Regions from separate parts of the Homo sapiens genome. Here region 2 is linked to region 1. Evidence: fine-mapped expression QTL. A gene starts in region 1. The other region holds a variant in brackets. All regions are shown on one strand. Distances are between the middles of the regions.

Region 1 (2,934 bases):
ATAATTTCTTATTCTAATTATGTGGTGGCTAACTGAATGAAACATTTATGGTTATGATATAGAATATTCTAAATACAACTACAGACAATATGGATCATAGATAAAGTAAATTATTGTTTTATGGCTCCAGTGGTTCTTCCTGGTAATTAATAAAAATAAACAGTTATTAAATATATACAGAAAAACAGCAATCTATCAAGCTTATAGAACAATTAAGAATATATAATAATCTTTAAATCAATAAATTAAAAGGTAAACATTTAATATAAAATGAATATATTAAAGGATAAAGAAGTAGCATATTATGGAACATATAGAGATTATTTTATTTTTTGAAGGTTCAACCTCTTTTAAATGGTTAGTATTGGTGTTCTTTTCTCTATGAAAACAGATTTTAGAGAAAAATGATAGTGTATTTCACAAAGCCAAACACCTCTATATTGTTATCACTCCCTATATGCATGGCCTCTCTAAAGCTGTTAAATAAAAAACTAAAGCACAAGAATGATAGTTCCAATTTCACTATACATTTATGTTTAAAAAATACTGGACACACTGGGCATTTAAATAGATGACATACAGCCAGGAAACTCATTAGACTAGCTTTAAGTATAATAAAAAATATTTTTTCTGAATACAATTAATCATAAGCATCTACAAAAACACAAGACCATTGATGCCTAGTATGTACCATAAATCACCATTTCCAGACAGGCTCTATTTTCTTTGAAAGATAAAGAAATAGTAAGCAGTTTACACATCAAACGATGCCTTTGGTTCCTGTAATTTACATTTAAACAACACTGGGTTAAAAATAGCAGCATGAAGATGATTTTAAAGTAAGGAAAATGACCTGGTAGCTAGGTTCTATGGTGCAGATAATGAAATGTTTTGTCAGCTTACCTGATAAAACAGAGCCTTATGAATTACAGCATAACAAAGCCCAGCATCCAAGATGGTTAGGGTATAACGTGTCTTCCTCTGCAGCTGTTCAGCTTTTTTTTTTTTTTTTTTTTTTGACCACAGAGGTTTACAAATTAGTTACAATTTTTTTTCTTTCTTTCTCTGTGGATAAGAAAACAAAGAGACCTTTCCAGAATCCTCTCTGCTTATGCCTCCGCTTCCTGTTCTGAGATTCACTCTATGGTACCCAACATATATCAGAAAACAGCTTTGAGGAAAAAAAAAAAGAAAGAAAAAAAGGCCGATCGCACTCAAAGTGGTACCGCCATCTACTGGCGGACACACACAAAATTGAGCCAAAGAAAAAACATTCCCATTATCCTCTGTCACAGGGAGGAAAGTAAACCTGCATGAAGCATGGGTAGTCATGAAAGTGCCCCAAGATGACAGTAGAGAGGTGATGTGAGCTAAAATTTCCCAACACACTAAAAAAATGTAACTTATCTACTACATATAAATATGTATGAGACCTTTTACATATTCAGTTATTTGCATCTCACTAATTTTTTTAAAAAATTTTATCACTTTGTTGTTTTGCATGATTGTTTCACACATAAACTACTAAAATTAAAAGATATATAAATTACTGTTTGAAAAATAGGTTTTAAGTTTACATTACCCTTTACGTGTAGAGTTTTGCGAAAGCTCCCTTGTGGCCTGCTCTAGTCTTTTGAAAACCTTTTCTCTTCCTGGGATGAATTATTTTCAAGGTGAGGAATTTGACTCCTTAGAGAACAGTGTAAACACATACTCACTGATAGTATTTTTGTGTTGCTTTCTGGTAAAACATTTGCAAGAAATATCTAAATGTAGAAAAAGATTCTATACATCAGTGAACCTAGCTAATATTATTTATTAGGATATTGAAGCACACAATACATAAAGAAAATAAAAATAATCCATCAGTTATTAAGATATTTCTCAATCCAGATGTATGTTATTGTTTCATCTGACCTTTCATATCTACTTTAGAGCAAACAACTATGATTTTATTACAGTTTATCATCAATTAAATAAATACATTCATATTGACAAACCAACTGTATGGATGGACAAAAATGATGTCAAGTATTATATTAGACTTGAAAAGACACAGAGAGAAACACACAGTGCCTGCCATAAAGGAGCTCATACAAAGAAGAAAAACAAATATAGCTGATACCATATTTCCCAGCCATGTGTTCAAGAACTGTTAATTACATACTTCGTTTTCAATTGTGGCCCCCATTTTGTCTAATGGCAGAAAAATAAATCTAGTCAGTTCCAGGTAAACTAAATTACTTGAGGCTTTTCCCAATGATTTTGGGTTTGCATTCAACCAATACATGATTTTCCTCTTCTATCTCTCCTTCTCATGGAGACTGATCTAAGTTCAGGATTGTGTACATATATAGAGAAAGCAGAGTATGATCCCGTTCCCCCTTTCTCCACATGGGCATCCACTGAGGCCAGGAGTCCTGCATGATCCATGACCATCATTATCCCTCATATCTACTAACGTACCCACAGGCCCACTGGGCCCCGGGAATAGCATCCCTCCAGCTTTGCATGGCAGCATCCCCTCTTTGTCACTTCTTCCTCTAAGGAAACTTTTGTTCCTGTCCTTTAGGAGGAGAGAAGAAAAAGCAGCATGTTCCCAGGGTCACTCTTGGCTGTAATTGGCTGACTTAAGCCTTCCTCCCTGCCCCAGGCGCCTCACACAGCCATCTCTGTTCTGCTGTTTGTAAACCATGGGATGTAATGCACTCTGCAGGCTTCAGGCAAGCGAGGCACAATCTCTGCCACACTAGAATAGTGTAAATAGATGGAAACTTCTCATCTTTTCATCTTTTTAGCTAATCCTAGATTGGCAAACTATGTAAGGAGCCCTTATCAGAGACTCCTTTCCTTCTTCATAACTTCCTTCACAGACTCAAAAGAGTTTTTGCTTGGGTCTCTTCTTTCTGTACCAAAGGTAAGCTGGAGCCACTT
Region 2 (2,934 bases), 240 kb before region 1:
CCTAATTTGAGCTTTTTATCAAATTATATAATTATGTAGATCATACGCTAAGCCTTTGTAGAATTATTATGTTTCATTATTATTTGGTTACAGTCCAGGCGAGGTGACTTCCAAGGTTACCCAGCTCTCTTAGAAATAATAAAAGAAGGCTCTATCTTGGCAGAAATTCAAATTTAGAAAGCTCTTCCTGATGTGTAATCTGACTCCTTTCTGATATTATTGAAGTCCAAATTTGGATGAGACTAGATATAATAATTTTCAATACATATCTCTGGGAAAGAGTGACTTTTTCCTCCACCTTAGAAATGAGTCTAAGAGGAGTACTTTTGTTTTTTGTGAAAAACTGGATGCGTGACATTCTCCACAGTATTCGGTTATTGGCTTCATTGCTGTAACAAACAGAGCACCAATATTTAGAGTTTCAAACAAGCTAAACCTTACTTTCTCTCTTTTTAAATTTTCCAGAGGTAGATGTCTCAATCTTTGTTGGGAAGTCTTCTCTAATATGTTCAACTAAATAATCAAAATATATCTTTTTTTAGGATTCATCACCTTAAACATCATTTTTGTAATTATTTTATGTGCTCTGTATATTACTCATGAAATAATACATTATTTGTGTGCTACCATATTATTATTATTACTATTGCATAATTAAGGTATTTTCATGTTTTCTAACTGTAATTATTAGAATTCTGTAAGTCTGCTACGGTGACATTTCTGGTTAGGAGTCAGAGTGGATGGGACACTGAGCAATAAGGTAAGTATTAGCATGTGAGTAAGCCCTGGTTTGCCCAAGATAGTTGTCATTTAGGCTTCCTGTCCCAATGTAATCATAAGTAGCATTGTATTAATCCATTCTTGCATTGCTATAAAGAAATACCTGAGACTGGGTAATTTATAAAGAAAAGAGGTTAATTGGCTCATGGTTCTGCAGGAGGTACAGGAAGCATCACACTGGTATCTCCTTCTGGGGAGGCCTCTGGAAGCTTAAGGTCATGGCAGGAGGCAAAGCAGGAGCAAGGGAGCCAGAGAGTTGCTACACACTTTTGAACAACCAGATCTCAAGAGAACTCACTATGGCGAGGACAGTACCATGAGGATGGTGCTAAACCATTCATGAGAAATCTGCCCCCATGATCCACTCACCTCCCACCAGGCCCCACCTGCAACACTGGGGTTTACATTTCAATATGAAATTTGGGTGGGGACATACATCCAAACTATATCAAGCATCTTTGTCATTCTCAGAAGTGTCCCTGTTTGGATGATAGGTTCCAATATCATGCTACCTATGGGGTAGGATGGGGGGACCTATGGGGTACTAATCTCACCTAATATGTACATAACACTTCACAGTTATCTCTTATAGTATTCAAGCTGAGAAAGGATGCAGATCTTAAAAACATGTGCTTTGGGTTATTTAGTTAGTATAGTGTATTGGGAGCTCA[A/G]GCTCTGGAATCAGAAAAAAACTGGGTCTGAATCAAAGTTCAAGAGATCTTGGCAAGTTCCTTTATTCTTTGAGCCTTAATGTGCTTATTTGTAGAAAGGGAAAACTAAGAGTACCTCTCTCAAAGTGGTAGTTTTGGGAATTAAATGAGATAAGCTAATTTTTTAATTTTTGACATATAATAATTGTACATATTTATGAGGTGCAGAGTGATATTTGATACATGTATAAAATGTGTAAGGATCACATTAGGATAATTAGGATATCCGTCACCTCATTTATCATTTATTTGTGTTATGAGCATTCAAAATCCTCCCTTCTATCTTTTTGAATATAGATAATACATTGTTACCTATATCCACCCCACAGCATAATAGAACACTAGAACTTATTGCTTCTATCTAGTAACTTTGGAGGTGACCTAGACTTCTATTAGTTTCCTAAAACTGCTTTAATAAAGTATCATAAACTGGGTGACTTAAAACAACTGAAATTTATTGTCTCACAGTTCTGAAGGCTAGGAGTCCCAAATCAAGGCAATAGCAGAGCCATGCTCCCTCTGAAGCCTACAAGGGAGAATCTTTCCTAGCTTCTTGTGGTTGGCTTGTAGATGCAACACTACAATCCTCCATCTTCACATGGCATTTTCCCTGTGTCTCTACACACTGTTCCCTCTGTGCATGTCTTGTCTGTGTCTGAGTTCAAATTATCCCCTCCGTTTTTTTTTTATTAGGATACCTATCATATTGGATTAGGGCCCACCCTAATGGCCTCACCTTAACTTGACTACACGTGCACCTACATCTATTTCCATAGAAGGTCACATTCTAAGGTAGTAGGGGTTAGGACTTCAACATCTCTTTTCAGGGAGACACAATTTAATCCATAATACTATTTTTAAAGTATTTAGTTATTTGCTTGGCCTGTAATAAGCTCTGATTAATGTTTTCTGCTGATATATCCAAACAGAAAAATACTTCGTTAGGCCAAAATCATATAAGATAGAGGGAATTTTGGTGCAAGAGAAACTGCTATTTGGCTTTAGATATTTATTTTCTCTTCCTCCACCCTGAAAGAGACTCTGATTTTGGTCTTGACTGTGGCTACCTGGAAAGAGAACTGAAATATACATCCTTACTTGTAACCGGTTGTGGTCATACAGCTAAGTTTGACCAAGAAGAAGATGCAGGTGAACTGTAAGTCCTTAATGAGAAGGAAAATAATGCCTTACCTTTCTTTTGCTCCTTCTCACTGGCCAGAATGCAGAGACATGATGGCTGAAGCTGGAGCTTTTCCCTGAAGCAACCACCTGTTGGAAACTTCATGTTGAAGATGACTGAATAATAAGACAGAGGGGTCTGGGTCCCTGGTGGATATTCCAGATCTGGGTGTTCGTGGAGATATGAGAAAGCAATAAACTTCAATTTTGCTTAAATAGCTGTTACTTGGGGCATTCTGTCATTTATGGACAAATCTGACCTGGA

Which allele goes with the higher level. Positions count from the first base shown, and alleles are read on the strand shown. Sizes are in standard deviations (SD) of each study's normalised expression.
In carriers of allele A in region 2, the expression in subcutaneous fat of the gene that starts at base 1,131 in region 1 tends to be lower than with G alone (small effect, 0.19 SD a copy in GTEx).

The links. PIP is the estimated chance that this variant, and not a neighbour inherited with it, causes the effect.
Region 2: its variant is the best candidate, but not a certain one, in a credible set for the expression of SCN3A in subcutaneous fat (GTEx, PIP 0.71).

Annotation. Positions count from the first base shown.
Region 1 is chr2:165,202,920-165,205,853 of GRCh38, forward strand. SCN3A (sodium voltage-gated channel alpha subunit 3) reads right to left here and starts at 1,131. Exons shown (of 28, transcript NM_006922.4): 1 at 904-1,131.
Region 2 is chr2:164,960,208-164,963,141 of GRCh38, forward strand. No RefSeq gene overlaps it. Among named protein-coding and RNA genes, the nearest start is that of SLC38A11, 6.2 kb to the left of the region's middle. The variant A/G (reference allele first, on the strand shown) is at 1,452.